Linked DNA regions of Homo sapiens. The protein of the gene in region 1 purifies or fractionates together with the protein of each later gene. This does not show direct contact. Each region holds a gene or a part of one and is shown on either strand. Other genes may lie near its edges. The genes, in order: PON2, SIL1, LRIG2 and CTSF.

What was found.
Region 2: the proteins of PON2 (region 1) and SIL1 purify together in Homo sapiens (affinity purification with mass spectrometry; 3 studies listed by BioGRID and IntAct, with this or other methods). This does not show direct contact.
Region 3: the proteins of PON2 (region 1) and LRIG2 purify together in Homo sapiens (affinity purification with mass spectrometry; 3 studies listed by BioGRID and IntAct, with this or other methods). This does not show direct contact.
Region 4: the proteins of PON2 (region 1) and CTSF purify together in Homo sapiens (affinity purification with mass spectrometry; 3 studies listed by BioGRID and IntAct, with this or other methods). This does not show direct contact.

What each region holds. Positions count from the first base shown.
Region 1 is NC_000007.14:95,431,994-95,439,087, forward strand, and holds the start of PON2 (serum paraoxonase/arylesterase 2), read right to left. Parts: upstream 3,036-7,094; 5' UTR 2,959-3,035; coding exon 2,885-2,958; intron 1-2,884. UniProt on the Homo sapiens protein: Capable of hydrolyzing lactones and a number of aromatic carboxylic acid esters. Has antioxidant activity. Is not associated with high density lipoprotein.
Region 2 is NC_000005.10:139,020,369-139,027,407, reverse strand, and holds part of SIL1 (nucleotide exchange factor SIL1 precursor), read left to right. Parts: intron 1-415; coding exon 416-607; intron 608-6,115; coding exon 6,116-6,237; intron 6,238-7,039.
Region 3 is NC_000001.11:113,090,177-113,097,215, reverse strand, and holds part of LRIG2 (leucine-rich repeats and immunoglobulin-like domains protein 2 isoform 1 precursor), read right to left. Parts: intron 5,899-7,039; coding exon 5,833-5,898; intron 5,188-5,832; exon of another isoform or gene 5,076-5,187; intron 4,011-5,075; coding exon 3,936-4,010; intron 3,787-3,935; coding exon 3,652-3,786; intron 2,878-3,651; coding exon 2,734-2,877; intron 2,605-2,733; coding exon 2,461-2,604; intron 1,343-2,460; coding exon 1,199-1,342; intron 995-1,198; coding exon 851-994; intron 1-850.
Region 4 is NC_000011.10:66,562,964-66,565,645, reverse strand, and holds the end of CTSF (cathepsin F precursor), read left to right. Parts: intron 1-639; coding exon 640-759; intron 760-839; coding exon 840-904; intron 905-997; coding exon 998-1,088; intron 1,089-1,499; coding exon 1,500-1,558; intron 1,559-1,638; coding exon 1,639-1,713; 3' UTR 1,714-2,182; downstream 2,183-2,682. Other genes in the region: ACTN3 (alpha-actinin-3), read right to left, coding at 2,453-2,611. UniProt on the Homo sapiens protein: Thiol protease which is believed to participate in intracellular degradation and turnover of proteins. Has also been implicated in tumor invasion and metastasis.

The DNA.
Region 1 (7,094 bases):
CCACCTACCCCAACATTCTCACGTCAGCCCATTTGGGGCTCCACATATCCAATAAAGTTACCATTTTATAAAGTCACTGCCCATTAAAGTGCATCACAGTCACGTAAAGAAAAGGTGCATCAAATTGTAAAGTAGGCCGAGGGTGGTGGCTCATGTGTATAATCCTACCACTTTGGGAGGCTGAGGCAGGAGCATCACTTGAGGCTGGGAGTTTGAGATTAGCCTGGGCAACAAAGTGAGACCCTGTCTCTGCAAGAAATAAAAATACTAGCTGGGCATGGTAGCATGCATCTGTAGTCCCAGCTACTCAGGAGGCTGAGGAGGGAGGACTGCTTGTGCCTAGGTGTTTGAGATTGCAGTGAGCTTTGATGTACCACTGTACTCTGGCTTGGGCGGCAGAGCAAGACCTTGTGTCAAAATAAAAAACAAAGAAAAACAAAAAACAAACAAACAAAAACCTGTAAATAAACTATCAGGCATTCTGTCAATAAGTTTTATTTACTTTTTCTTTTTTTTTTAGATTTGCAGCTATAACTTTAAAACCTTAAGATTAGTGAGAAGGGGGAATATTTGACTGTTGAGAAAACTTCCAACTTGCAGAAAAACTGGTGGCTTACACATTAGTGACAACATAATAAGCTTGTGAATTTTGGTGGTCTTGCCTTTGAAATGGAGAGCAGGACAGATCATATACAAAGTCATCCAACTCATGAATGTTCTGTAGAGCACAATGGGCATTACCTAACATGAAAATTAAGGTCAACATGTCCATTTCCTACCCATAAGCGTTCTTTCCTCAAATCTCACTCCCATCTCAGCCACCACACGCTTCCTCTTTGCACTGCTTTATCAGTAGATGAAACTACAACCATGGGACAGTGGAGCTGTGGCACAAACTCTGGTAGCACCTTTGACTTCTCCCTCATCCCTGGGGTTCCAGAGTTTGGGTCCCTGTTATCCTCTCTGACCTACTGCAATACCTTAACCAGTTACCCCATGTCTGCTCTCTATTCTAGTAGTTCTCGACCTTGACTGCTCATTAGAATTATCAGGAATGTTTTTAAAAATAAAAAATGCCACTGCTACTGTCAGCCACTGTTCTTACATTATGCACTTCCTTATTTATCTATTTACCTGGGAACCCTGAAGCCAGCTTGCCAAACAATACATTATTCCATATCACATTTTAATTATAACGAAAAATCTCTGGTAGGTAGACACCATAGTTTATAAATTACCAACTCAAATTTTGTTTTTTATTTATTTATTTATTTATTTATTCATTTTGTAGAGGTGGGATCTTGCTATGTTGCCCAGGCCTGTCACTAACTCCTGGGCTCAAGCAATCTTCTGGCTTAGGCCTCCAACAGTGCTGGGATTACAGGTGTGAGCTGTAGATTCTGATCCAGAACAGCTGAATCAGAATCTTTGGTGGTGCCACTCAGACACCAGCCCTCCAGGAGATTCTAATGTACAGAGAACCATTGCTCTCCTCCAATCCCCCCTTCCAGGCTTATCTCTATAAAACACAACTAGTTATATTAAGTTCTTGTTGAAAAGCAAAACCCACCAATATTTCCCTTTTGAAGCACTATTGGGCCTATGAAAGTGGGGCCCCATTTTTCAACTTATATTTAATGGCCTCAAAACCTATCCTTCCCACCACCCTACTATTCTCATCTCCTGACTTTATGCTCCCTTCAAATTGGCCCATTTGCTAGTCTTCCAACTTCCCACCTTAGCCCCTTTGCTCCTGCTGCACTATACATTTGGCATGGGCCCCTTCATGCTCATATGTGTTGCACCCACCCTTCAAGGTCAGGTCGAATGTCTCTTCCTCCCTCTAGAACTCCACCCTCAGGGGATGGAATCTTTCCTCTTTAAGCCTATGCGGTTCATTTGTGTCTGTCCTTAGAACATCCTAATTTATACATTTACTGTATTTTAATTCTCTCTTCCCCTGTATCAAACTCCATAAGGGTCGTACTCTACTATAGAAGCCTAAGAGAGAACATTACACATAGCAGGTGCTCAGTCTTTCTGGAACTCTTTTGCATGAGGCCTATAAAATTTTGGTTGAGGCAGGGCAGAACAGCTCACACCTGTAATCCCAGCACTGTGGGGAGGCCTAGGCTGGAGGATTGCTTGAGTGCAAGAGTTAGGGAACAGCCTGGGCAATACAGCAAGACCCCATCTCTACAAAAAATAAAATAAACAAAAAACAAACGTTGAGTTGGTAATTTATAAACGATGATGTCTACCTACCAGAGATTTTCATTAAAACTAAAATGCGAGATGGAATAGTGTCTGCGCTGTCTGGCATTCTGGCTTCAGGCTTCCCTGGTGAATAAATAGGAAGTAAGAACAGTAGCTGAATATTTCAAGTGTCTTTGATCTACAGCTGAAGAGTTTCTCAAACTATGCAGAAATGGGTGGAGAACAACTTTATTAAAGACGGGTCTGGTTTGGGCAACAAGGAGAAACAGCACCAATGACCTGAAATAAATCTTCATAGTTAAGGTTTCAATGCATGAGTAGTCATTTTGTTTTCAATTTAAACCACTAGTTTGGCCCTTGGGTAATTGCAAAGCATTCTCTTGTCAGCCTAAGCAGAAGAGAACTTTGTTAGCAGCAAGGGCTTATAAACTTTCAAGAAAGTGTCGCGATTCACTCCAAACTTTGCTAGTTTTTTCACTAGAAGCGGAGAGTCGGGGTGATGGGGGTTCAACTAGCTGGGGGAGGGACAGCATTCAAAAATTCTCCACCCCCGGCCGCAGGGCCAGGTCCCGCAGGAATCCCTCCCCCAGCCTGCGCCCTCCCCGCACCACGCGGCCACCCCGAGCCTGGGGACCGCCGAGGAGGGGCGCGCGGGAGTCCCACCTACCTGAGTGCCAGAAGCCTCTCGCCCAGGAGCGCCAGCGCGATCCCCAGCAAGCCCACAGCCACCAGCCGCCCCATGGCGCGGGAGCCGGGCGCGCTGCCTCGCTCCGGCCTGGCCAGCAGCTCCGTGGGCGGTGCCATCTTCCCGGCTCGATGGTGCCGGCCGCGCTCCGCCCCGTCCTCCGCCTAGGCCGAGTCCCTGCGTCGGGGCCGCGGAGGCTCCGCCCTGGGCCTGGCCCTGGTCTTTGTCCTCACAAACCTATTTCCCCAGATACCTTCGGGACGGCCCGGACACGCCTTACATTAGGCTCATGATGTGAAACTTTGAATTCCTTCACTTCCTTTTTCAAACAACCCACCCGAAACCCTCTAGCAGCCCGCATACCTTTCTCGTTTCCCTAGTCTTCAAACACATTTCTCACTCGCTATTCCAGTGAGAAACTTACATAGAAAGCAGCTTTTGGGGATGGGGGTCGGTGGCCAAGGGAGGGAAAGTAACGGGATGCGTCGTGTAAATATTTCACGTTGGAATCACTACTTTTTATAACAGGACGTAGTTGCGAATAAATAAACATCCTGTGCCTCGTAATACTTTTTTTTTTTTTTTTTAACAGGGTCTCGCTGTGTTGCCTAGGCTGGAGTACATTGGCACAATCATAGCTCACTGCAGTCTGGACCTCCCGGACTCAAGGGACCCTCCAGCCTCAGCCTCCTGAGTAGCTGGGACCGCAGGCACGTACCGTTACACCTAGCTAAGTGTGTGTAAGTTGTGTGTGTGTCTGTGTGTGTGTGTGTGGAGACCGAGTCTTGCTGTGTTGCCCAGGTTGGTCTCAAACTCCTGGACTCAAGCCATCCTCCTGCCTCAGCCTCCCAAAGTGCTAGAATTACAGGAATGAGCCACCATGCCCAGCCTCTATTAATACTTCCAGACTACAGACTTAAGGACTTAGACACGTCTTTTTCATCCAAACTCAAAGGGAAGAAGTGTAGTTTTTTTCTTTTCCGTTTTTACTCTAACAACCGTAACATGAAGGAATAATTTAAAATACAATTTTAAAAGTAAAATGAAATTTACCCATCAAGATTGATACCATTACAATAAATGAGTACATCTGAAATAAGCTTCTAATGGTTTTCGGTATTTAATTGCCACCCTACAATATGTAGGCAGAAATGGTCACACTTGACAATTTTCAACAAATATCAGTTTTATAAAGAACCAGTAAATAAAAGTGGATGCCAATTTCCCACCTGCCTCTCACCAAAAAAAAAAAAAAAAAAAAAAAGCACAAACACCTCTCTCCCTGTGTGTGTGTGTATCTCTGCTTCAGTCCTAAGGATATTGGATTATACTGGATGGTAGAAAGAGAAGTAAAAAGTTGTCCTTTGAAAGCCCATGAGGCATTACCTTTTTTGTGTCGTGGACCCTTCTGGCAGTGGTGAGCCTGTGGATAACTTCTTAGAATAATGTTTATAAATGCTTACAATAAAATGCATAAATTTTCTCTGTGCGGTTCATGAAAAAAAGAAAGAAGAAAAAAAAATTTTAAATAAATGAATAAAATGTATAGATTGCAAAGAAAATCAATTACATTGTAAGGAAAAAAAATAGCTGAGAGCAGTCTGAGCTTTGTGAGGTATGCAAAATTTATCAGGCCCAGAGCGACATGAGTATGGGACTTCAGTCACGCCCCAATACCCATGCCTGGGGACAGTTGTTTAAAGACATTTTGTTCCCGAGTAGCTGTCCCACCCATTATCTTCATATTCCTGGAATTTATGATACAAAGAACAAAGTATAACCAATCCACAGCTTATGTTATTTTAACGCAAGGAATTTAGGAACTGCCTCTTCCTTCCCCTTAAAAATCTATGTGTAACTGCTGCTAATCAGAGTGTATATTTAGGGAAACTTGAATCTATACTCCTGGGTTGCAGTACTCAAACTTGGCCCAAATAAACTCTCTACTTACATTAATTTTGCCTTAGCTTTAAAATTAAAGGTCAACAATTGAAATGTAATTGTTAAAATATCTAAAACATAATTTTTTGCTATAGTAATGTGGTAATGTAATGTGTGCAACATTATTTAACATATTAAATAACAAGATCTAGCAACATTCTTTTAAATAAAGAGGAGTGCAAATGTTCTTTCATGATACTGAAAACAACTATAATGAAATAATGAAAATAACTGTTATTTCCATTAGTAACAGTCACAAGTACTGCAAATGCTTCTGAGGTTTGTCTGCTAGTTTTGTAATTGAAGAAAATGCTAAATTCCATTTGAAATCAAGATTTTTTTTTTCTTATCCAAGGTCATTAATTCCTCTGAACTATCAATGGACCACTGGGTTAAGAACTCTGACATAGGCTAAGGCTATGACTGTTTAGAGAAGGGTGGAATCTCCTTTCTAGGACTATTTTTGGTGTCAATTATTGAGGAAGAGAAGAGCCTCAGATACAAAATCAGAATTTAGGCCTGGCAAGGTAGCTCTTGCCTATAATCTCAGCACTTTGAAAGGCCCAGGTGGGAGGATCACTTGAAGCGGGGAGTTCAAGACCATTGTGGGCAACATAGGGAGAACCCATCTCTACAAAAAAAAAATTAAAATTAACAAAAAAAAAAAATTAAAGAATCAGAATTTAGAAGAAAGACCTAAAGCAGAGGGCCTTGGACTATTGTCTGGGCTTCTCTCTTAATCTCTTAGGCCCCAAGGGAAGTACATACAACTATGCCTCATGGATTCTGGGTCAGGAGCCAGGCTACCGTGTCTTTCCACAAGTTCCGCAAAATGAGGAAACCACATAGATGGCAAATAAGAATATCCAAGTATATGCTATTCTCTGTCTATTTCCCTTTTGCTATTCCCAATTTTTTAAAAAGAAAAAAGTCATGTTCTTAATAGTCATGTTCTTCAACCTGGTTCCAGGTGACATTAAAGGGTTGGAGGTCTACATCTTTTAGGCTAGTCTCAGGATAGCAAAAACAACAACAACAACCAAAACCAGCTTTTGTGCTGACTTTCCTTTCTTCCCTGGCCCATGGTAGGCGTCACTAATTGATTTTGGCAAAGTGTCTCATCACACCCAGACTTGTCCTCACAATTTTTTAAAACAACAACGAAAGGGAAATAAGAATCCCTGAGCTAGGGAACAGATTTCAGTTCAGGATGAAACCTGTTTGCCATCTTGGTGCTGGGTGGTCAGGAGGAACAACACCTTGGGATTTAGCATGGAAGCATTTGTGATAATGAGCCAGGACTTTCAAGTCCACCAAAACCTACCTAAGCTCACCCTCAGAGAATCAAGAGAAATGGAAACCTTATTTTAACTTTATTAACATGACCAGTGAGTTCCCCCAATAATCTGTGTGAGGAATCTTCTACCCCCATATTCTTTCTCTTTCTGAATGTTGCGGTTGAAGCAACTTTTGCAGAAGTAGTATCCATCTTTACCCCCAGCCCCACCACCATGCTAGGGCTGGAATTGTCATTCCTCACATGGGGATGGAGATGAGACGTATTTTCTAATTTGGAAATCAGAAACCATTGTAAGAATGTTATAGTGGTTGTTACATTGTATAGTATAGTTTAGCTGTCTTTTGAGATAACTAGGATGTATAGGCCACACCAAGAACATAACCCCTGGTTTACGTTTGTTTCCTGGGGAAAGTGGTTTCTGACTACCAAATAACCAAGTTACTCAATACAAAACAAACTTGTTCTGGAACTTGCTTGTGTGCTGGCAACTCCTTATACTTGGTATGAAACAGTATTTCTCAAATAATGACTTCTGACTTATTTAGTGGTTATTAAGTGGTTTTTTAAGCAAAATTTCAGAAATAATAATACCTTTTATCAGTGCTTCTCAAACTATGTGCAGTGAAGGACAGGTTTTTCTTGGCCTTTGTAAAATGCAATGAAAATGACTTACTGGAAGAGGAAGTAAAAAAACCAGACATACAAAATACAAGCCCAAATCTTTTATTATTTGGTTCAACAGACATAAAATTACTTTGTCAAATTTCTGTAACAGTTTCTAAATGCTTACTTTCAATTTTTTATACTTAACTAGCCATGGACCAGAAACAAAGAGTTCACAGACTGAAATGGTCCCTGGAGCACACTGCCTTTCATAATTGTACTTTTAACTCTTTAAAGTTCTTTGCAGTGTATTCTTAATTGTAACGCTCACAGTAATTTGTGAAATAG
Region 2 (7,039 bases), on another chromosome or scaffold:
AAGATAGTCTATGATTGTGAGAAGTGGAGAAGTAGGGTGTGGGTTATTCTACCTTAGGTCTCAGCTGTTTCATATGTGGTTTGAGGTTGAAGATGAACTTGCATTACTTCCCCTTAACTCAGTGGTTGTGACAAAAAGCCTTTCTATTCTTCCTGAATATTGGAAATCGGACTTGAATAAGCGAATCTTGGAACATCTTGAGTGTGTTTTTAGAGCTGAGGCCTATATAGGCAGACTTTGAGGGCTGTCTTCTCTGGGCATCTTAGAAAGTATTAGTATTTTTGATAGCATAGATGAGAGAAGACTGTGAGTCTTGGAGCAGCAGTTTTTTGAGGATGGGCATCCATGGTAGACCACAGACATCTTGGGCAGATGTCTCCAACCAATTTAATCACCTCTTTGCTGCTCTCCTTAGGCAAGGCAGGCTGAGGTAAAGCGGCTCTTCCGCCCCATTGAGGAACTGAAGAAAGACTTTGATGAGCTGAATGTTGTCATTGAGACTGACATGCAGATCATGGTACGGCTGATCAACAAGTTCAATAGTTCCAGCTCCAGTTTGGAAGAGAAGATTGCTGCGCTCTTTGATCTTGAATATTATGTCCATCAGGTACTGTATTTCTTCGTCCATAAGTCAGACTTTTAACAGCTCCAAAAATAAATCCCCCTTCCCTAAGCCCTAAGAAAATAGCATCAACATCTTTACTTCTCTCCCAGAGCACAGACTATTTTTAATCTAGTCTTGTTATCTTTTGTAGTAAGATACAGTCTTAGAGGCCAGAGCCAACTTCTTTTTCTTTTTTTGTCTGAGTCAGAGTCTCACTCGGTCACCCAGCCTGGAGTGCAGTGGCGCGATCTCGGCTCACTGCAACCTCCACCTCCTGGGTTCAAGCTATTCTCCTGCCTCAGCCTTCCGAGCAACAGGGATTACAGGTGTGCACCACCACGCCCAGCTAATTTTTTGTATTTTTGATAGAGATAGGGTTTCACTATGTTGGCCAGGCTGGTCTTGAACTCCTAACCTCAAGTGATCCACCCACCTTGTCCTCCCAAAGTGCTGGGATTACAGGCTTGAGCCACCATGCCTGGCCAGCCAACCTCTTTTTCATGTGGAGTGGTACCTTCTTTAGTACCTCTGAGGGTACCACAGAGATAAAATAGACATAGTCCTAGTTATGCAGCTTATAGCCTGGAAGAGGAAGTAATTGAATAATGAACAATTGAACAAATTAATTAAATAATGAGATAATTTAAGATTGTAATGAGGGCTCCAGAGGGTGATGTAAGAATATGTAACTGGAGAACTTAGAGCCTAGTCATGGACAATAAGGGAGGCTTCTCAGAGGATGTGACATTTAGGCCAAGCGTTATAGGATGATTGGGGTTGGCTGGGTGAAGAGGGGGGACTAGAGCAGGGGATGGCAAACTACTGCCCATAGGTCAAATCTGGCCCAACACCTCCTTTCCTAAATAAAATTTTATTGGGGCACAGCAACCCCTATTTGTTCATGCATTGTTTATTGCTGTTTTTATGCCACAATGGCAGAATTGAGTAGTTGTGACAGAGACCATATGGCTCACAAAGTCAAAAATATTTACTACCAGGCCCTTTAGAAAAAGTTTGCCAATCCTTAGATTAGAGCATTCCAGCTAGAGGAAACAACATGTGCAGAGATTCTAGGGCAGGGACAAGCTTGGGGAGATTGAGGGCCTGGAAAAGATTGGAGTGACTGGAGCACAGCGGCCTGGAGGGGAGCATAGATGAAGTGGGAAGGTTCGGGGGCTGGAGAGGTGAGGTTGGAGATATCATGCTCTTTATGATTTTAGCCTTGATCCTAAGAACCACTAGAGAGTTTGAAGCAGGGAAGTAACTGATCAGACTTATAATAACTAATATTTGTTGAGTGTTGTCATATACCAGGCACTGCTTCAAGTGCTCTGTATGCATTAATTCATTGACTTCCGTGGCTGCCCTATGAGTAGGTACCACTATTAATCCCATTTTATAACCGAGGAAAATGAGGCACAGAGAGATTATGTAATTGCTCAAGATCATCCAGCCTAGTGAGTGGTAGAGCTGGAATTTGCAGCAAGGTCTGTCTGACCCTAAACTCTGTGCTCTAAAACTTTTGGCCACTCTGTTTCTCAAAGGCAACTGGTACCTTTTGAATTAAGCTCAAAAGGTGGAGCTAACAAGGAGCCAATAAAAGCCATTGATTTATTCAATAAATAAATCAAGTGTCTACTAACTCCCAGGCACTGTTCCAGGCACTTGAGATACGTCTATGAACAAAATTAGGGCTTAACCTTCTAGCAGAAGCAGATAGACAAGCATAAGAAAGAAGTAATTATATGTAATATGTTTGTAGGTAATAAATACTGTAGAAAAATAGAAACTATGGCGAGATAGGAACTGGCAGCATTGAGAAGGGGCATCTCTGGCTGGAGGAAGAGCAAGTGTGGAAGCCCGGTGGTGGGAACATGCCTAGTGTGTTTGAATCAGCTGGAGCTGAGAGCAGGCAGAGAAGAAGTACATACAGCTCAGAGAGATAATGGGAGGAAGAATATAGAGGGCCTGTAGGCCATGGAAAAGAGTGAACTTGCATATTATTGAAGGATATTGAGCAGAAGAATGATGTGATCTGACTTACTTTTAAAAGGATTCCTCCAGCTACTGTGTTGAGAATTAGACTGCAGGTGGGGGGCTTGGTAGAAGCAGAGACCAGATAGGAGGCTATTGCAGTAATCCAGACTAGGGGCAACAGTGGCCCAGGAGGCTGTGTAATCATAATCAAAGGCTTGTTTGAGATCCTTGTCAAGACACAGATCCTCAATGTCCTCCCATGCACCATGCACGACAGTGCCCTTGTTCTCTGTAAACTGGGCTAAAAGACATGCTTTCTTCCTTTAGGATTTTGCCAGCATCTGTGGTGAAAGAGGATGAGTATGCACTGTATCCATAGGAATTATGGGGCAGCCTCTTCATCTTCTTTCTCTGCTCATAACTCTTTCTCAGGCCTCAAATAGCAGGACTCTGATCCTCTTAGAGAAAAAAAATGAACCTCGGTTCTCTTTCCCCTTTCCAGTCTTACTCTCCAGGGTAAAAACCAAGAACTCCAACAGCTTTTCCATTAGAGATATTTAAAGGATTAAGGATATAAGGGGTTATTTGCCAACTCAGTCCTCCTTTGATGTTGACAGCTTCTATTTTTTCTCATCTTAACATATTTGGATGAATCTTTAGGTATCAGGTCACCATGGGCTCTTGCACATGAAACACCAAAATGACTGGAGAGCTTATCATACCTGGAAGGGTGTGAGTCCACAGGAGGCTTGGGCTAGCATTGCCCCAACAAAGTTCTTTGTTTTCCCTTGTAGGCTCTTTGTCACTTGGCAGTGTCTTCCCTAAGGTGACATCCCCATTCTGCTTTCACAGGCCACCTCACCAGACCCATCCTGAGGTCATCCCAAAATCAGTCCCTGGCAGAAGCCAAATTTGTCTGTTGGCAGAGAAATGTTCTGGATCATTGGTGTTTTGACTGGAAGGGCTGGTGCATCAGGCTGCCATGCAGCAATGTTAAGCTGTGATTTCACTGGGGGATTAAGTAAGACACAACTCGGCCCGAGTCCCAGTTGTGATGGGGGCTTGGGGTGATGTAGTACTAGTTTTAAGGAAGATGGCACTTTCCTAGCCAGGAACTTCCCCAGTCCTTTCTCATTCCAGACTCACTGAATGGTGGTTTGAGGAGCTGTAGGCTCCAAGGACCCAAACCAGGTCTGCCAGGCTTCCTCACAGCCATATTTGAATTATTAAACAGGATATGTGAAAAGCAAAACCTTGTGTGTGGAAACAGATGGTGAGTTATTTATGAGGAGCGGCCTCCGTCCGCCCCATCTACCTCGGGCAGTACATTTGCCTTCTCCCACGTGTCTCCTCAGCTGTGTGCCACCATTTTTCCCCTTCGCTGTTTCCCATTCTCTCATTGTCTTATCAGTGCCCTGCTTCTTTCCTTTCCTCCAGGGTGTTGGCATAGTTCCCTCCTGCACTCCCTCCTCCTCTTCCTCTCTGCCTGTCCCACCCCACCCCGAAGGCAGCCTGAGAACAGTTTTGGCCCCAGACCGAGATGGGGAGCTGTGGACCTGGGCTATGGTCATGGTTTCTCCTGTATGTCACCAGGGGGGGGCCCAGCTTTTGATGTGCACTGGGCAGAATGAATCGTTTCTTCCTCACTGTTAGTGAAGTAAACCATGAGAAAACATCCCAAAAAGGCTGAAGTGCTTATATAAATGTCTGCATTTCTATCATGCTGAATTATCATTGTAGTAATAGTAGATAAACTGACTCTAGAACAGAAGGTCCATGATTCTGGGCTGTGTTGCTTTGGAGCTGACCGAGTGGCAGCTGCTCTGCTAGGAACTCATACCAGCTTTATAAGTGGCCATTCCAGGCGTGGTATGACAGGATTCTGAGCCATAGTTTTGTATCCAGAAAACCCAGAGGAAGGACAACCAAAGAATAGGTAGTGAATTCTTACATTGTAAAATTAGAGCATGTAGGGAAGGAAGGAAGGTGCTTATGTCAGCAAAGCACCCAACCCTGAGTCTCCCTAGTTAGCTGGGCTGTGGCTCAACCAGTTATTCCTCTTCATAAGAACAGTTTGGGGCAGAAAAATGTCCATGGCCTGGGGCCACATGGCAGAGCAGACTTCATGCTTACTTCACAACCTGGTTTAGCCATTACTTCATGTCTGCGGTACCAGAGGCCCATTCATTTTGTTGGCACAGATACCCCAGATTGCCTTTTTATTCACACTGGAGCTTTATTTCAGGAACATTCTTTTCTGATCAAATTCATACTCATTAATGCAACAGTTATTCATTGAACACCTAACCATATGCTCAGCACCATCCTAGTCCCTGGAGCTACAAGCGTGGACAGACAGACAAAACCCCTGCTGTCATGGAGATTCCATCCAAATGTGTATGAATATGATTTTTCAAGTGGCAACAACAGGCTAGGCCACCACAAAACACTAGCACAGTCAAATACCAATCCTCACACTTGATTTCTCTGTCAGAGTCCTCTCCTAGTTCAGAGAGGCAAGGATGCAGTTGGGAAGGGGCCCTGTGGAATCTGGAGGAGAAAGATGGGTAGCAGCCACAGTTGTTGGGCTTCAGCTTCCTGAGTTTTCCTCATGATTGATAGCGTGGGATTAGCATATGGGCAAGATGCAGCCTTTGTGGCAACAAAGATATATTCGAGGGAGACTGTAGCGGGTACATGTAGAAAACAGGATCCAGTGACCTTTCTGAGGAAAGCGAGTTGTCTTGTTCCAGGGTACTAATAAACTGTGGGTAATGAGATCCGCTATAGAGTAAAAGAGAGAATCCGGACTTGGGGATTTGGAGCTTAAATGATAGCCTAGACCAATGCTGTTGAATAGAACTTTATGTAATGATAGAAATGTTCTGCACTGTCTGATACATAGCCACTAGCCAGTAGCACAGGCTTAGACAGAAACCTTTGGGAGAGCGATTTTCTTGCATATTTTATCATGAATGTCTTCAGATGCAGTCAACCTGAGATGCAAGAGAAAGGTACTATTGTTATTCCCCCCTCCCCAGCACTCTTACGGCAACCCCCCTCCCAATAACAGGGCTCCTTTTATAGTCCCTAGCTTCTAATTTAAAATCAGCTTTAAAAATCTGCCTCCACTGTCCCCATTGGGATTGGACATCAGCAGGAAGCATGGCACCATTTAGTGGTGCTGATGACGCCAGATTCTTTGTGTTAACAGCTTGTACATTAGGAGCAAGCTTTGTGACTCATTATGATATTAGAATTTTCCAGGACATGTTTGGCATAAGCAATAGCTAGGTGTCATTTCTGCTGATTCCCACGCAGGTGCTCATCAATCGTGTTAGATGAATTAGGAGTTCTCAAATTTAAGAGTATTAAAAAATTGGTTTTTACAAACCTTTTCTTAGTCAAAAAGGCCATTATTGATTTTTCCATGGCTTTTTAATTTGTTTTTGGGTAGTCACCAAAAGAAAGGCTCTAAGAACAGCTTTCCTGTCCCTGATGGCTATGCTGTACTAAGCAGTGGCTCTGTTGCAGATGGACAATGCGCAGGACCTGCTTTCCTTTGGTGGTCTTCAAGTGGTGATCAATGGGCTGAACAGCACAGAGCCCCTCGTGAAGGAGTATGCTGCGTTTGTGCTGGGCGCTGCCTTTTCCAGGTGAGCAGTATAATGGACGTCCCAATGGCCAGAATTGCTTGGCCTGATCTGCTTGGAAGAAGGGTACACTTGAATGTGCCTGTTGCTACTGACATTTCAGTGTCATCTCAATGAAACTAGAGTAAAATTTGATTCTGCCCTTATTCCAAGTAGATAGGAATTTTTACCCATGTTGTCACCATCTGTGACTCTCTGTTCCCCCATCTTATGTGTATGGACATTTAATAACACATCTTAGGTCACATTCTCTGTTTTATTCAAAGCTTGTAAAAAGTTAGACCAACTATAAATAGTAGAGAGGGAGGGGAATAAACAAGAGTAGGTCTTTTGGCAGTAAAGCTACATCTAGTGACGAATAAATGATGAGCCTGACCAAGGGGGTGCTTTCAGGGAGGAATGTGTCTTGCCCTAGTTGTCTGGAACCAATGTACATGCCGTCAGATTATCGCCCTCTCTAGGTTGGAAATTGTTGAGAATTTCAGTTAGTCTGGCTTGTGATGGAAGACTGATAAGGCAAGAGGAGTGGGGAGGTAGCATCTCGAAAGAGTAGATGCCAAAAGATATGTAGGCACCACATCATTCTACACCACCTGCAAAGGTCAAGATATCTGCATGCTGCAATTGGTCCATTGGAGCTATTGTTCCTCCCATTTTTGAAAATCTGCTCTTAGGACCATTTGTGCCTTTAAAACAGGAACAAATATTCTGATTCTTGCTGCAAGGGCATGGGTGGAGGCTATTAGATGCTTAGATGCAGGTCACGATGTTACAGGAGAAAAGCTATTCTGAACATATTTACCAT
Region 3 (7,039 bases), on another chromosome or scaffold:
AAAATTATATTCTAAAATTAGATATATTTATATATAAATATATAAAGTTCACAAAAACACATTCTTATATTCTGTAAATTGAATAACTTACAGAACCACAGAATTTTAGCGTGGAAACTGCCTTTAGCAACCATCTAATCCTATATCCTTCCTTCACCGTATAAAGGAGAAAAAAAAATGATGGCCAGGAAAAGCTAAGTGATTTTGTTCTTCTGTTGGTATGATAAAATGGACATGAGCTTTAGCATCAAACAGACCTGGGATCTGATTCTGGCCCAACATTTACAAGCTATGTGACTTAGAGAAAATTATTTAAATTTCTCTGAACCTCAGCCTCCTAATATGGAAAACAGCAGTATCATCCTAGTATTTGAAAGTACCTGGCACATATCAGATAATAAGTATTAGTTTCTTCTGTCCAAAGTCATGTAGCAAACCAGTAACAGTGAACTGGTCTCCTACCACGGCAGTTCCCACTACACAACCTGCATCCTTTCGAATGAGAACTAGTAGCTCTGGTGTATTGTCAAAGTCAAAGGAACAAGAAAATGACTGCTCTCCTGACACTAGCAACTGTGTTTTATTCCACAGCAACTAACACAATAAGACATGCTTTGATGCTTATGGGATTAACTCAGAATTAAACTACAAACTGAATTGCCTACGACAGGCTTGGGATTTTTATGGGGATGGAGACAAATAAGACTGCCTTGCTCTGAGGCATAGGACAGAAGAACCACAAAATGTTAGCATACAGAATTTGCAGACTGATTAGTTGTTTTAATTAATTTGCTTTATTGTACTAAAAAAATCAGTAACAACAACCAAAAAGGAGAATGGATATACTTACAATGTCTGAAGATTGGAAAGAAATCTAAATACACCATCAGCAATATGAGTGACTCTGTTGTCTCCTAAATTCAATCTCTCCAATAAGCTCAGACCCACAAAGGCAGATTCATCCAGGCGGGTCAGCTGGTTATAGGACAAATCACTGAAAACAAGAAATGTGGAAGGTAAGGAATTCATTGTATTTGGTTCAACTTACAATTCTTATTATATCTACATGGTAAATTTAGAGCTTTCTACAAATTTCTAGTAAAGAGGGATGTTACATCTCATTACTGCCCATGGGAATGATTTATTCCAATCTGCTCTAGTCTTAACTGCCTCCAGTGAAATGCTATCCAACACTTACAGTTCGGATAGTCTTTGGCAGAACTCCCATGCATCAGGGCTGATTCTTTCAATAGCATTCTGGCTCACATAGAGCTGCTGTAACATTCGCAAGCCATACAACCACCCCTTGTTTACTCGTGTAAGGTTGTTGTGTTCCAGTTCTCTGCAGAATTAGAGAAAGAGAAGAAAATACGTTCCAAAACAAGGCAGTTCAATAACTAGCTTTAAATCTTAAGTTTTTCCCAGAGAAGCATATACCTTTGTTCAACCCAACTGAGCTGACCAATTCTATTCAATAAAAATGAATATCTTATTTAAGATTTAGTGCTTGGCCGGGCACAGTGGCTCATGCCTGTAATCCCAGCACTTTGGGAGGCCGAGGTGGGCGGATCACAAGGTCAAAAGATCAAGACCACCCTGACCAACATGGTAAAACCCCATCTCTACTAAAAATACAAAAATTAACTGGGCACGGTGGCGCGCGCCTGTAGTCCCAGCTACTCGGGAGGCTGAGGCAGGAGAATCGCTTGAACCCATGAGGCAGAGGTTGCAGTGAGCCGAGACTGTGCCACTGCACTCCAGCCTGGCAACAGAGCAAGACTCTATCTCAACAACGACAACAAAAAAAGAGATTTAGTGCTAGAAGGTAGTAAGACTGTCTAAAATAGGAGCTCTACAAAACCAACAGGCCAAGTGGTATAGTATACCTGTTTGGATAAATTCTGGTAATTTTCATTAGCCAAAACATTAAGAATATAAACTTTTTGGCCGGGCACGGTGGCTCATGCCTGTAATCACAGCACTTTGGGAGGCCAAGGTGGGTGGATCATGAGGTCAGGAGTTCGAGATCAGCCTGACCAACATGGTGAAACCCCATCTCTACTAAAAATACAAAAATCAGCCGGGCCTGGTGGCACACGCCTGTAATCCCAGCTACTCAGAAGGCTGAGACAGGAGAGTCACTTGAACCTGGAGGCAGAGGTTGCAGGAGCTGAGATCACGCCATTGCACTCCAGCCTGGGCAACAGAGTGAGACTCCATCTCAAAAAAAATATATATATATATATAAACTTTTTAGATGAGAAGTTTGTAAGAATTATTTCAAAATTGATCAGTTAGCTAACAAAACTTTAAAGGTTTTATGTACGCTTACTTCACATCAGTGACCAGGGAATGAATGAATGTATCTCTATAATCAGAACAACTACCCTAGCCATTCGACACTGAAAAGTCCCAAACAGACTACTTTCCTAATAATCACCTCTAGTCCCGAGTACTTACAGTTCTTCCATGTTATTCAAGCCAAAAAATGCTCCATCCTTAAGTTTGCTAATTCCATTCCGCTGCATTTTCAAAGATCTTAAGGAGTCAAGCCCTTGGAATGTAAGACCTTCCACAATTTTAATTCTGTTTCTTTTAAGTTCCCTTTAACAAAAATAGTTTTACAGTCAGGAAATTGGTTTGCTAAAATGTTCTAACAGTAATTAAATTAAAAAGAAAAAGACCCTGTAAGAAAAAACTATCTTCTTATAATCCGTCTATTTCGTTACTCACAAGAATTGGAGGTGAGGCAGCTTGAAGATCTTAGGTGGAATCATGCTCATTCGGTTACGGTTTAACTTTACCACTAATAAGGAACTTGATAAATTATCGAAGCAACCAGCCTCCAAGGTGGTTATTCTGTTATTACTTAAATTCCTAAAATAAACAAGATAATAGCAAAAGAAAAAATTTAGTAAAATAAAAATTCTACCACTAGAAAGCTGCCAAAAATCTATGTCTAAGCCCCCAGCTCTATCACTTAATGCCCATCCACAACTTTATAAATCATTTAACTGCTCTGTTTCTTCATCTACAAAATTAAGAAGCTACCTACTTCATTTAGGTTGTTACAAAACAGCATGTGTGAATATGCTTTGTAAACTGGAAAACACTGGCACACATGCTAATTATCATTATATACAGTAAGCCATTGTTTAACAAATCTCTATTTACCTTTTAGAAAGCTTGGTTCAAAAAAAAACAAACAAAATTGAATCTCAAAATTACCCTTGATATCTACCAATATTTTCTGACAATAGTGCGATCTTTCTTTAGGGGGCTTGTGGGGTGAGTGGCAAAGCCAACCACCCAACACACCAACTCTAGGTTTGTCTCACATATGCATATAAAAAGCACAATAAATAACCAAATATTTTTGGATAGGTACTGATGAATAATAAACATGTGCTTTATTTTATTTTATTTTTATTTATTTATTATTATTATACTTTAAGTTTTAGGGTACATGTGCACAATGTGCAGGTTAGTTACATATGTATACATGTGCCATGCTGGTGCGCTGCACCCACTAACTCGTCATCTAGCATTAGGTATATCTCCCAGTGCTATCCCTGCCCCCTCCCCCCACCCCACAACAGTCCCCATAAACATGTGCTTTAAAGTAAATCTAATTTAATCTGTGTTACTTACAGGTATTTAAGCTGCATGCGAGGAAATGAAGATGTCTTGATTTCTGATATTATATTTGAGCTGAGGTCTAAACTCTCCAGAGCAGGGTAAAACTGGAGTGCCTGTGCATTTATTTCTGGGATTATATTATGGACTCTGTAAAACAAAGATTATAATGAAGCTGCTGCCACTGATCCACCCCAGGCCACAAAAATGTTAATTAGAATCAACAATATATGTGCTTTAAAAAAAAAATGTATACTTTTCATAATTTAAGTAAAAAACCTGAAAACTTACTAACTTACAATGAAAGTAGAGTAATATTAGATGTAGGTTCTCCAAAATACGGGATTTCTGTTAGTTCATTGTAATTCATTTTCCTAGGCAAGAGGAAAAACAGATTTAAATGTTTAGTGAGGGAAATATTACCTCTTGGATTCTACCTTCTGGCTAACACATATTCTTTAGAATAGGTGCCAAATTTGAAAAAGAATATGACTCAGAATGAGTTAGACGAAAATAAAAATGTATTTATTGAGAAATTAGAGGTTTTAATGAGAAATGTATTTTCTTTCTTTTTTTTTTCTTTTTTTTTTGAAACAGAGTTTCATTCTTTTTGCCCAGGCTGGAGTGCAATGGTGCAATCTTGGCTCACTGCAACCTCTGCCTCCTGGGTTCAAGTGATTCTCCTACCTCAGTCTCCTGAGTATCTGGGATTACAGGCATGCACCACCACGCCCGGCTAATTTTGTATTTTTAGTAGAGACAGGTTTCACCATGTTGGCCAAGCTGATCTCAAACTCCTGACCTCAGGTGATCTGCCCACCTTGGCCTCCCAAAGTACTGGGATTACCGGCGTAAGCCACCATGCCTGGCCAAGAAATGTATTTTCATAGTGTTGATCTACTATTGATATTAATATCAGAAAGGTTATGAAGTATTTTGCACATTAAATATTGTTAGTTCAAGCAAAGTTCTTTGAATAAGTTGGGTTTATGGCAGCTAATTTGAGTCCTTAAAGAAGGCATAATCAGTCCATCCAGATCTCTCTTTCTCTAAATATATATAAACACACAACACACAAATGTATATATATTTTTTCTAAAGCTATACAAATGTTAGAGAGTGTTACTTGAGACCACAGATGAAATTTATCAGCCCACCCAGAGATGGAACCTATGACTAATTTTACAGATAACATAACATGTTGCATCTGATCCCAGCAGCCCTTTAAACAGTTTGTCTCAAATGTTTTAGTAGCAAATCTAATACAATCACATTTCATTAACCTGGTTTTTAGTCACTGAACAACCTCAACAATCTAGAACACAGAAAAGAAACCAGAAGTAAAGACCTTCAGGAAACCAACCAAAGTTACAAAGTCCATGCAATAAAGCTCATGCACTTCCCACTGAAGCATTTTCAGGCCTTTCCTCAGTGCCTACTCTTTCAGCTAACAAACTTGTCAACTGTGTACTCATCCACAACGTATTAGAAGCAGTGAATCTGGGGCCAGGAGGAGAGAATGCAGAGACAATGAGCATGAAGAAGTTATCCCTGTTAGCAAAGAATTAAAAAGGAAAGTAAATCTCAGGGTTCTGATGGTGTTAATTGTAGAGGCAAATAGGCCTATATACCTTAACGGTTGTGCCTCTAGGAATGTAACAATGCAAAAACTAATATTAATAATATCTTAGAAAACTCCCTCCAAAATTACATAATACATCTCAGTATTAAAGGAAAAACTTTAGTTAAGAGAAAAACTTAATTCTATCAATCATTACATTCTCATATGATATCAAGAATACTCTATTTCATATAAATCTACTTTAGACATGATGCTCCCAATCTTAGATAACATGTCAAGACATTTAAAAAGGTTATACAACAGAGTTTCACTGGCTGAAAACTTGGCCAAAATCAAAACACATTTACTCTGAAGAGGCGTAAATCTTACTTTTAGCCCCAGGAAGGTAGAATATTTCCCCCACAGCCTGCAACTTGAAATCACCAACCCAATGCCAAGACAGTCTGATAATAACAAAGCCAAAGAAAACATTTTAGGTTTTCAAATAATTTCTTTTAACTAATTTTTTCCTTCAATTTTTTTATGGCATCTCTGGATTAAACATCCCACAAATCACAATTTATTAAGTTCCCTCAGGAATTTAACATAACTTTAAATAAATAAAAATAACTTACACTTCCTGTAATGTTTGTGATTCCAAGCTGATGTTCCAGTTAGACAACCGATTATGACTGAAATCCCTGAAAGAGGACAAAATATCATTCTTAGTTTAGTCCTGGAAAGTAGACCTAAAGAAAAAAAAAGAAACTAAATAGAAATACAAAAAGTCCTCTTGGCCAGGTACAGTGGCTCATGCCTGTAATCCTGGCACTTGGGGAGGCTGAGGCAGGCAGATCACCTGAGGTCAGAAGTTCAAGACTCACCTGGCAAACACCATCTCTACTAAAAATACAAATATTTGCCAGGTGTGGCAGATCACCTGAGGTCAGGAGTTCAAGAATCACCTGGTGAAACCCCATCTCTACTAAAAATACAAATATCATCCAGGTGTGGTGGCACACGCCTGTAATCCCAGCTACTCAGGAGGCTGAGGCAGGAGAATTACTTGAACCCGGGAGGCAGAGGTTGCAGTGAGCCAAGTTCACGTCACTGTACTCCAGCGTAGGTGACAGAGCAAGATTCTGTCTCAAAAAAAAAAAAAATTTTTTTGTTTTCTTTTTGAGACGGAGTCTCGCTCTGTCGCCCAGGCTGGAGTACAGTGGCGCAATCTCGGCTCACTGCAAGCTCCGCCTCCCGGGTTCACGCCATTCTCCTGCCTCAGCCTCCCTAGTAGCTGGGACTACAGGCGCCCGCCACCACGCCCGGCTAATTTTTTTGTATTTTTAGTAGAGACGGGGTTTCACCATGTTAGCCAGGATGGTCTCGATCTCCTGACCTCGTGATCTGCCCATCTCAGCCTCTCAAAATGCTGGGTATACAGGCGTGAGACACCACACCCAGCCAAAAAAATTTTTTTAATAAAAAAAAAAAGTCCTCTTAAATGTCAATTTGAGTAGTATAGACAAGAATGTTTATAAAGGATGAATAAAAATGTATCTGAATTTCAAAATAGCTATTTTACTTTACGTGTGTGTATTTATATATGTGTGTGTAGCTTCTGAGTTTGGGAATATATTCACATGGTCCAATTATCAAAAAGTGTAAAAAGTCTCCCACTTTTGTTTCCAGCCACCCAATTCCCCTTCCCAGTAACAACAAATGAAAATATGCCATTTATTGTGCAGACTTCTGGATATTTTATGCATGTACAGCAAATTTTTACAGAAATGACACAACAATTTACACATTTTGCCCCTTGCTTTTTTCACTCAATAATACATC
Region 4 (2,682 bases), on another chromosome or scaffold:
GCAACCGGAGCCACTTCTCCCTGTACAAGAAGTTACTTCATAATGGGGGGGAGACATGAGCATGAGAGTTACACAGAACTGGGTCCAGGTCTTAATGCTGACCCAGCCAGGCGTGGTGGCTCATGCCTGTAATTCCAACACTTTGGGAGGCCAACTTGGGAAGATCACTTAAGGCCAGAAGTTCAGGACCAGGTTGGGCAACATAGCAAGACCCCATCTCTACAAAAAATTAAAGACATTAGCCAGGCATGGTGGCTTGCATCTGTAGTCTCAGCTACTTGGGGGGCTGAGGCAGGAGGATCGCTTGAGCCCAGGAGGTTGAGGCTGTAGTGAGGCATGTTTGTGCCACTGTACTCCAGCCTGGGTGAAAGACTGCTGGGATGAGCTCTTGGTGAGGAGTCAGAAGTTGGAGTTGAGTTCTGTCTCTGCCACTTTTCTTGCTGGCTACTGGTCCCTCCTCCCCATCTCTCCCAGCCTCAGATGTGTCATTTCTAGAATGAAGACATTCTTCAGAGGGGATGGCCTGTGGCCTGGGGTGGACGAGGAATGTGAAACCTCGCGTAGAGGGCTTAGTTCATTTCTGGCTGTGAATGGCAAATGGGAGCCTGCCCTTCTCTACTCACCCCCACCGTTCCCCAGGAGGGCTGGAGACAGAGGATGACTACAGCTACCAGGGTCACATGCAGTCCTGCAACTTCTCAGCAGAGAAGGCCAAGGTCTACATCAATGACTCCGTGGAGCTGAGCCAGAACGAGCAGAGTGAGTGAGGGGCAGGGTGAGGTGAGGTCAGGTGGGGCCGGGGCCTGGGTGCCTACTGATGCCACCCCTTCCCATCTCAGAGCTGGCAGCCTGGCTGGCCAAGAGAGGCCCAATCTCCGTGGCCATCAATGCCTTTGGCATGCAGGTGAGGCCCTAGCCCCACTGCCCCTGCCCCATCTCTTGTTGACCTCCCCGACCTCTTCTTGGAGTCGATCCCCTACTCCTTCTCCACCTCCAGTTTTACCGCCACGGGATCTCCCGCCCTCTCCGGCCCCTCTGCAGCCCTTGGCTCATTGACCATGCGGTGTTGCTTGTGGGCTACGGCAACCGTGAGTTCCGCTGCCTGTCCTGCATCCAGCCAGGCCACAGGCAGGGGTGGGATCACAGCATCTCAGGTCCTCTAGAGGGGAAATAGGGGGAATGCCTAGGAACCCTGTCCTTACCCACTGCCTGGGCCATGACCAGCTGGGCATCATCTGTCCTCTCTATGGCAGGGAAGCTGAGCTGTGGGAGGGTAAATATTGATGGCCTAATAACCTGCAATAGGCGGGTGGGTGCGTGCTTCCTCCCTGCCCCAGGGCTTCTCCCTGAGGCTGGTAGGTGGGCCCCTCGCTTTCTGCTCTTTTCCTAGTCCCTGTCACACAGTAGGCCCAGTGCAAGTATTTGAAGGGTGCAAAGTGATTAAGGCTCTGCCTGGAGAATTAAGGACCCTGATCCTTGCGCTCTGCACTGCACCCCAGGCTCTGACGTTCCCTTTTGGGCCATCAAGAACAGCTGGGGCACTGACTGGGGTGAGAAGGTGAGTCTTGCTGGCTTGGCCCCTGGCCCTCCAGCCGCCATCCTACCCTGGTGCCCTCACCAGCTCCCCCTCTCCCCCAGGGTTACTACTACTTGCATCGTGGGTCCGGGGCCTGTGGCGTGAACACCATGGCCAGCTCGGCGGTGGTGGACTGAAGAGGGGCCCCCAGCTCGGGACCTGGTGCTGATCAGAGTGGCTGCTGCCCCAGCCTGACATGTGTCCAGGCCCCTCCCCGGGAGGTACAGCTGGCAGAGGGAAAGGCACTGGGTACCTCAGGGTGAGCAGAGGGCACTGGGCTGGGGCACAGCCCCTGCTTCCCTGCACCCCATTCCCACCCTGAAGTTCTGCACCTGCACCTTTGTTGAATTGTGGTAGCTTAGGAGGATGTCGGGGTGAAGGGTGGTATCTTGGCAGTTGAAGCTGGGGCAAGAACTCTGGGCTTGGGTAATGAGCAGGAAGAAAATTTTCTGATCTTAAGCCCAGCTCTGTTCTGCCCCCGCTTTCCTCTGTTTGATACTATAAATTTTCTGGTTCCCTTGGATTTAGGGATAGTGTCCCTCTCCATGTCCAGGAAACTTGTAACCACCCTTTTCTAACAGCAATAAAGAGGTGTCCTTGTCCCGAGTGTGGTATAAATGCTCAGTCCCCGGGGGTGAGGAGAGATGGCAGGGACTCCTGGCGGGTCAAGGTGGGATAGCTGGTCCTGCCCAGGAGCCTGAGGGGCCAGCTTCTGCTTCAGGAACTAAAAGGAGATGGGGAGAGACCCAGAGAGGGATCTTTATTCAGAAGCACTTGGCTGGCTTTTCTCTTAGGCCCTTGCTCCGAGGGACGGATGGGATCAGCCACAGGGTGCATCCTCTCTCCATCTTGCATAGAGAACCTCAGTGGTTGGGGTCAAAGGTCGCTCTCCCCATAGAGGGCACTGGAGAAGGCCACGTAGTCCAGGGCTCCAGCCGGGGCCCCGGATCCCTTGTAGGGCACCATACGGCGGATGCAGTACTCGGCCTGCTTGGCAGGGAGCTCGCGCCGCAGCTCCTCGGGGGTGATGTAGTTCTGGGGAGAAGAGGCGTTGAGGACCCACAGGTCCCGTGCCCTGCCCTAGCCCACCAGCCCCTCCACCGCCT